2 linked regions of the Homo sapiens genome follow. The protein of the gene in region 1 purifies or fractionates together with the protein of each later gene. This does not show direct contact. Each region holds a gene or a part of one and is shown in the gene's direction. Other genes may lie near its edges.

The links.
Region 2: the proteins of ACSF3 (region 1) and ZNF467 purify together in Homo sapiens (co-immunoprecipitation; one large-scale study listed by IntAct). This does not show direct contact.

What each region holds. Positions count from the first base shown.
Region 1 is NC_000016.10:89,152,785-89,156,684, forward strand, and holds the end of ACSF3 (malonate--CoA ligase ACSF3, mitochondrial isoform 1 precursor), read left to right. Parts: intron 1-1,305; coding exon 1,306-1,423; 3' UTR 1,424-3,449; downstream 3,450-3,900. UniProt on the Homo sapiens protein: Catalyzes the initial reaction in intramitochondrial fatty acid synthesis, by activating malonate and methylmalonate, but not acetate, into their respective CoA thioester. May have some preference toward very-long-chain substrates.
Region 2 is NC_000007.14:149,771,198-149,775,097, reverse strand, and holds the start of ZNF467 (zinc finger protein 467), read left to right. Parts: upstream 1-1,509; 5' UTR 1,510-1,990; intron 1,991-2,010; exon of another isoform or gene 2,011-2,075; intron 2,076-2,336; exon of another isoform or gene 2,337-2,394; intron 2,395-3,601; exon of another isoform or gene 3,602-3,632; coding exon of another isoform or gene 3,633-3,713; exon of another isoform or gene 3,714-3,779; intron 3,780-3,900. UniProt on the Homo sapiens protein: Transcription factor that promotes adipocyte differentiation and suppresses osteoblast differentiation in the bone marrow. Enhances the osteoclast-supporting ability of stromal cells.

The sequences.
Region 1 (3,900 bases):
CGGGAGGATCCTTTGAGCCCAGGAAGTCGAGGCTTCAGTGAGCCATGACTGCACCACTGCACTCTGGCCCAGGCAACAGTGAGATCCTGTCCTAGAAAGAAAAGAGAAAAAAAGAAAAATGCGATTTGGAAATGTGGAGGTCGAGGTTGACAGCGACACCGAGGTCGAAGCCAGTTGCCCCTGGAGAGCGAGAGACTGGGCTGGGCCGACTCCCACCTCTGTCGCGAGAGGCCTACGGGCAGGGGCAGGTGGGCAGGGGGACTGTGCTGGGTCTCTGGCCGCGTCTGGACGGCAGGCGACACTTTCTCCACAAAAAGCGTCAAGAAACCACGACACTTGGTTTCTGGACTTTTCCGCGGAACAGTAACCAGAACAATCGCCATGAAGGTTCGTTTCTGTCATGGCTCAGTGCAGCCTGGACGCCCTGGACCAGCCCCTCCTGCGCCTGGGCCACGGCCGCTGCCTTCAGGGCATCACTGGTGGGCGGCACAACCATCCTCCCTTTGGGGGGTTAATTTCATTTCTTTCCTCCCTTCTTTAATGGTGAATGGAGGAGCACCGAGCACCACTGCAGTCTCAGTTTCAGATCCCAGCGCCTCGTCCCTGCCCACTGCCCTCGGCCCCGCCCGCCTGCATTGGCAGTGCCCTGGCCCCACCCACCCGTGTCAGCACCGCCCACCGCCCTGGCACCACCCACCGAGTTCTCGCCCATGAGGAAGGGGGACCCTGAGTGGAGGTTTCAAACCTTAGGGGCCGTCCCTGCCGTGCAGGGCTCTGTGAGGCCTCTTGCCACATAGGCTTGTGTCTGCAGGACTGTGCGGCATTTACTCCCATCTCAAATACCCCATACAGGGCAGACTGCCCCTGCCCCACCTGCCCACCCACTCCCCAGCCTCTTCCGCACGCCTCCTCTGGAAGGGGAACGGGCCACAGAGTGAAATGGGGCCTTCCAGCTCCAGTGCGGGGACTTGGAAGGCCTGGCCCGGTGTGGGGGCCCCTCTGCCCTGCAGGCCACTCTGTGCAGGCCTATCCTCAGGTGTGCCCTCGCCCAAGGCCTGCACGCACCATGGCTTCTGTGGTACCAGTGATAACACCATGCCGGGCACCTCCTGCAGTCACCACCCCTGGGCTGCTAGGGCAGAGACAGCTGCGGTGGCCCGGTGCACCTGCCTGGCCTCAGGATGGCCGAGGCGCCTGGCAAGGCTGCAGGGTCCCAGGGGCACCTGTCCGTACTGCTGGGCGCCTGAGTTCCTCCTGCTGGGCACTGTCAGGGCAGTGCGCCTCAGGCTGTGCTTGTCTCTGCAGAAATGTCCTGGCCCCGTACGCGGTGCCCTCGGAGCTGGTGCTGGTGGAGGAGATCCCGCGGAACCAGATGGGCAAGATTGACAAGAAGGCGCTCATCAGGCACTTCCACCCCTCATGACCCGGCAGACTGGGACTGCGGGTCTGGTGGGGAGCAGCAGACGTCCCCTTCACACCGAGAACCACGGGGGCCCGTCCAAGACCTGGCCTCCCTTAAACCTGAACCCCCCAAATCAGGTCACGTAGAATCAAGAACTGTTTGGGATGAAATCACCATGTGGGGTCCCCAGCCTCGGGCCAGTTGTTGCAGCTCAAGGAGACCGTCCCTGGTGTCACCTCTGCCTGGTCACCGCCGACCTCATCTGTGCAGCGCGGTGCAGCCAGCCCCTGGCCCCACGTGCTGAGGCACCTCCCGCCCCACAGTGCCCTGCAGTTGCCAGGCTCTCCAGGGCAGGTCCCAGAGGTTTCCCACAAAAAACAAAGACTCCACTGGAGGAAACAAGCCCCTGTCCCACGCCGTCTGCACGTGCCTGTGCCTCACCCAGAGCCAGTGTCTCCCGGCCCACATAGGAGGTCTGGGCAGCCACCCAGGGGGCCCTCCTGGGAGGAGCTGAGGGTTCACAAGCCTCCCAGAACCAGCCCTGTCCCATGGGTTCCGTGCATTTCCTGGTGCTGCTCTTGGAGGAGAGCAGCTCCCACTGTGGGGACACCTGCCACCCTGCACACTACTGTGTGTCCATCAGCATGTGTCACAGAAAGTGCGTGGACGGATGGCCCCGGAGCTGCTCTGCCGTGACCCTGCCTCACCCCCCAGCGCAGGGACTTTCCAGGTCATCTCCACACCAGCCCCTCAGCCGGTGAACCCTCTCTCCCATCACCGTCTCCACCCAGACCCCCACCTGCCCCATGGCCCCCATTTCATGTCTGTGGCTCACCAGCTTTTCCCCAGACCCAGCTCCGGAGCCCACAGGCGTGGCCGATGCAGAAACCTCAGGAAGGTGTGTTGTGAATGTTGGGTGCACCCACGTTGCATTTACTTAGCGGGGCCAATTCAGATGCACAGGGGCCACATGCAGAATCCAGAAGTTTCTGGACAATTTTCAGAAGAATAGGCTGCCTCCTCCCCACAGCCTGGGGGAAGTAACAGTCATCGCCCAGCAGTGTCTGGCCTGAACTTACCCAGAACATTCTGCCCCCGGAATGCACGTCTGAAAGAGTGGCCAGAAACGAGTGTGCCGGGCAGGAGGCCAGCCCCATCTCAGGCTCACGTGCCTCTGACAGGAGACCAGCCCCATCTCAGGCTCACATGCCTCGCGGACAGTTGGACGTGGCCTGGGGCCCCTGCTCACTTGAGCATGTCGCCCACCAAGCTTGTCTGAGGCCACAGAGCAGCGTCCCAGCCCTGTTTTCCAGGACTGGTGGGTGCCCCAGTCCACGGCCCTGCCCCACCCGAACTCCTGCCTCACGGTGTGGCCTTGTGCATCCCCATGGCCTGACCCCGGGAACAGTCAGAGGAAGGGGTCCCGCCCTCCCGCCAGAGGCCTGGACCCAAGGGAACGGCAGTCAGAGACTACAGTCCAGACGTTTGTGTCTAGGCCTTGCTGGTAGCTAAGGAAATGCCTTCTGTTGGGAAAAGGTCAAATTTAACATAGCAAAATTTTTACTTAATTCCACTAATTTTACATTTGCATCTCTCTCCTTTAATCCTGAAACTTTTGATTCCTAAAAAGCTTACATAATCATTTGCTTTATCCGATAGTATACATCAGTATATCATGCTTTCGAAATAATGAGTGTAACTTTCTGCTGACAATACTACAAACTACAGAAAGCCTGGAGCTCATTGACCAGAAACTGCAGAGAGCCTGGAGCTCGTTGACCACAAACTACAGAAAGCCTGGAGCTCGTTGACCAGCCGGTTGACCAGAATACGGTGCTCCAAGGACATGCGGTTGAATGCCGTGTTCTAAAGTCACGAGTGACTCTCCAGCTGGTCCCTGTGCCAGGCTGGTCGGCCTTCGTGCACACAGTCCGCCAGTGCCCAGCCAGGCCCCTGGTTCCCCTCTGCTCCACCAGCCGAGAACAAGCCCGTCCTGGAGGGAACTCATCCTCTCCTCCCTCCCCATTAAAGCCCAGTTTATTCCCCATCTTGGCCTCTGGTGCTGACCTGGCCTCTGGAGACACAGGCCGGGGGGTGCTGTTTGCGAACTCACCGTGACTGAGCTCCATGAGGATACCACAGTCCCACGTGGCTGGCAGCGCCCACCCCACACACCCTGCCCCTTGCTGGGCGGCCCCATGCCACAAAAGTTAGACCCAGGAGCAGGTGCCCTGGGAGCAGGCTGCCACCAGCTGGGTCAGAAGCCCCTCTACATGCCTGGTGCTTTTGACCTCCTAGGGAGGCTGGCTTGAATCTGGAAAGTCACCAGTTCTGACCCCAGCCAGACACAGGGGTGCTGCCAGGAGCTGCTCCCAGGCGGGTGGCCCAGCTTCTCTCAGGCACCAGGGGATGGCAGGACTCCTGGTGACCAGCTGGTCCCCAAAGCCGTGGCACCGCGCCTGCTGCTGCCAGCAAAGTCCCACACACAGCCTGTGGCA
Region 2 (3,900 bases), on another chromosome or scaffold:
TAATCCGAGAATCCGGCTGGGAGGGGCAGTGACAGGCTCCACAGGGGAATCCGGGGTCCACCCTGGTCCCAGCAGAGCTCTGAGCACACCCGGACACCCGGGCTGGAATGCAGCCTGGCTCCGACTCCACACCCCTCGGTCTCCTAAACCTGATATCCCTCCGAGTATCCTGTAGAGTCATTCCACCTAGGGGAGGAAGGGGGCTGCTGTTAACCAGAGCTGGGCCGGGCTCTCCTTCTCCTGGGTTCACCATTGGTCCCAGGGCCAAAAAAGGGCCCAGAGTGAGTCTCTCAGGGGGTCACGGATGACTGGGATCAACTCCTGCTCTGGAGTCCTCAGAAAGAGCCACACGCACACCCAGACACCCCCCTTTCCTGTTTTACACACATGCACACTCTCACTGTAAGTCTCACAACACCGGCACAGGTGCTCGGCCACACCCCAGCACGCACAGTGACACATGCTACTCCAGGTGCTCCCTTCATCCTGGAGGCAGAGGAGCCTTCACAGCTGAGCCCGAGTGATGGGCGCTCTTCCAGGCACTCATCCTTGTGGTGGGCTGTGGTAGCAGGAGCTCAAGGGCCATTCACACCCTCCCCTTCCCAGCCTCACTCAGCTCTGGATTCAAACCGGGGCTGATCAGGCAGCACTGGGATTGGGAAGAGACCCGAGTTGCAGTCACCCTTTCCCGTAAAGGGGCAGAAGGGAGGAAGCTGGAACCCAGGGGTTTGGAGAAAGTTCATGGAGAGGAGACCGGGAACTAACAGTCCAGACTTCAGCATCTCCGGAGCTTTCAGGAGTGGGCGCAGCGGGAACAAGGCCAAGGAGAAACCTCGTAACCTGGGCAGGGAGGGCGAGTGGAGTCCCCTGAGGAGCTGGGGCTGAGGGCTGAGGGCTGAGGGCTGCCCTCCACATCTAACTCCAGGTGGTGTCCGGGCCAGCAGGCCCCCCAGCAATCGTCTCCCGCCCATAGAGCCCTCCCCTCTCTGCAGCCCCCTCCCAGACCCTCCCCCGGACCCCGCCCTCAGAATCTCCGCCCAGCCCCGTCCCAGCCTTGCCCCCTGGAGCTCCCGACCTGGCCCGGCCTTCTCCCAGGGGACCTGGCTTAAAGTCCTCTCCCCAGTTTCTACTTCGAAGGACCCGTTCTCGCAAGCACAGGGGCCCAGCCCTCTCTCCCGCCTGCCCCCACGGCTCCCGCGGCTGGTTTCGAATCGGGTCCTCGGGACTCCAGGCGAGGGGCTGCGGGTCTGGGTGGATCGGGGTGGAATCCGGGTGGAGAATGGGGGCGGGGCCGGAGTTTCCCAGACCGACCCCCCGGGCCGTCCTCCCGCGGGAGCGCGGCGCTGCACACCCGGCTGGCACCGGCGACTTAGAGACGGCAGCGCACGACTCGCTGGCTCCCCCCCGACACGGCCCCTCCTCGTTCCCCCAACTCCTCCCCGCCACCCCCCCACCCGTTCGCGCTCCACCTTTCCCCGGCTCCTCCCTCCGCGGCCGCGAGCACCCTCCCTTGGCACCCTTCCCCGCAGCCCGAGTGCCTGTCCTCCCCAGCCTCCTCGCCCTCCTCCACCCCCTCTCCCATCACCCTCCCCTCCCCTCCCCTCCCCTCCCCCGTCCTGAGCTCCCACTTCCACACCTACTCCAGGCTCGGAGCCTTAGGACCATCACCTGCCCACCTAAGCCCACGGTGCTCCCTCCTGGGACCCCACTCCTGAAACCCCCTGCCCCTGCCTCCCCCAGCCCGGTGCGCCGGGGCTCTCCGCCCGCTCCCTCGGTCCCTCCTCCCTTGCAGGCGCCGTTTCCCGGCTTCGACTCCCCGCGCGTCTATCCCTCTCCTCCCCGCGAAGTTTCGGGGCTGTCAGTCTGTCAGTCTTTCAGGCCGTCAGCACCCGAGCTGCAGGCGGCGAGCGCCATTGTGAGCAGAGCCGGCGGGGCAGGAGGCCCGGGCGCCTGGGTCCCCGCGGCGCGGGCGGAGCGGCCGGCCAGCCAGGTAAGGGCCGGGGAGGCTCCTCTGCAGGCGGCCCCGCCCGCGTCTCCCTCAGCGCCGCGGTTGGGTCACGGCCGGCTCCGCGCAGGTGACAGCCCCGGGGGTAGGGGCGCGGACGGCGGGCGTGGGGGAGGGGCGCGGGTCCGGGGAGGTCGGGGGCTGGGGGGAAGGGAGGGCAAGGCCGGCGCGGGCAGGGTGAGGGCTGTGGGGGTAGAGGAGACCGGGGGGGCTGGAGGGAAGGGCGGGGGCTGGGAGGGGGTCGGGCGGGAGGCAGGTGGGAAGGGGGACGACGGGCCCCGAGGGGAGGAGAGAGGGAGTGTGGGAGGGGGCCGAGGGGGAAGGGGAGGAAGAAGCGGGCGCTGGGGACCGGGCCACTCGGTAGGGGCGGGAGAGGAGGGCGCTGACAGGTGAGCCCCGGAGCTGGGGAGGGGGCCGGGACCTGGAATGAAGTCGGCGATCGGAGCTGCTTGGGAGGGCGGCGGGGCAGGGAGGTGGAGCTGAGGGTCCCGTCGGGAGGAAAACTTGGGAGGGGTGAGAAGTCCGAGGGGAGCAGAAATAGGGAGGGGGCGCCGCGGCGGAGAAGAGAGGCGCGGAGGGGTGTTCGGAGGGGAGACGGAGTGGGGAGGGCAGGGCCCGCGGGAAGGTCCCGAGAGAGCGGGTCAGCCCTAGACCCCCAGGCTTGGGGGCCGGAGGACCCGGGAGCTGGGAAGCAGCCTGGGAGGGGGGAGGGGAAGAGCGGTTCTGGGGACTGGGGACGGGGAGGGAAGCGAAGCTGGAGCCTGCTGGGGAGACAGAGGGGGAAGGGAGGCGGGGGCCTCGGAGGGGAAGGAGAGCTGCAGAAGGGAGGGGGGAGGGGGAGGGCGGTGGGGAGACGTGGGGGAGGGCTGGAAAGGGGGAGGGGAAGGGAACCGAGGTGAGGCGAGGAAAGGAGAAGGAAGGGAAACCGGGGTGGGGGAGGAGAGGAGGGAGGGGAGAGGAGAACTGGGTTGGGGAAAAGAGCTGAGAGGAGGAGGGCGGGGGTTGGCGAGGAAGGAAAAGAGGAGGGGGAAAGGAAGGGAGAGGGTGTGCAGCCGGGGAGGGAGATGGAGCGGGGGAGAACCGGGAGGGTAGGGAAAGGCAGCCTGGAGTCTGAGAGGGGGAGGGGAGCGCTGCCGCCGAGGCGGCCCGGAGCGTAGGGTCAGGGGAGGCGGTGGCAGCGGAGGGCCGACCCGGACGGGGCCTCGAGGGGTTGGCCCTGCCGGGCTCGGGCGGGCGGAGCCTGAGGGGCGGGGCCGGGGGCGGAGCCGAGGCGCCGGCCCGATTCGCAGGGGAGAGAGGGCGGAAGGCAGAGGGAGCGGGAGGGGCGGGGCAGAGGGAAGGCTGCCGGGGAGATGGGGGAGGGGAGTCTGCTGGGGGAGGGGCGGGGGAGCCGCGGAAGGCGGAGCAGGGAAGGGGCAGCAGGGGCGGTGTCCGGGCCTTGGGCAGCCCGGCACGGGTGAGAGGTGGTTTTGTGGTAGGGGTTTAGGAAGAGGCGATCATTTTCTAGCTACAAGAGGATCCTCTCGAGGACCTCCCCAAGCAGTACCCCTAAAGTGACACTCACTCCCGCCCCTGGGCTGGCTCCTATTTCACCAGCTCGGGCAGTGACAGCTGGAGGACCTGGGAGATGAAGTTTCCCACTCCCCACCCTGGGCTCCCACCCTCAAGCCTCTCCCCAGAGAATCGAATCTTGCCTGCACTTTCCCAGGCAAGGACGCTGGGGCGTGGAGTTGCGGTGCTGATGGGCCGGGGTTGGCGGTGACAGACCTGCCAGGTGAGGGGGTGGCGCGGCTGGTTTCCAGAGCTGACAGAAATCGTTTCAAGGCCTTCTTGGGCCACCTTCAAAGATCTCTTGGCTTGGCTTTCTAAACCCAGTTTCCCAAATTTCCCCCAGC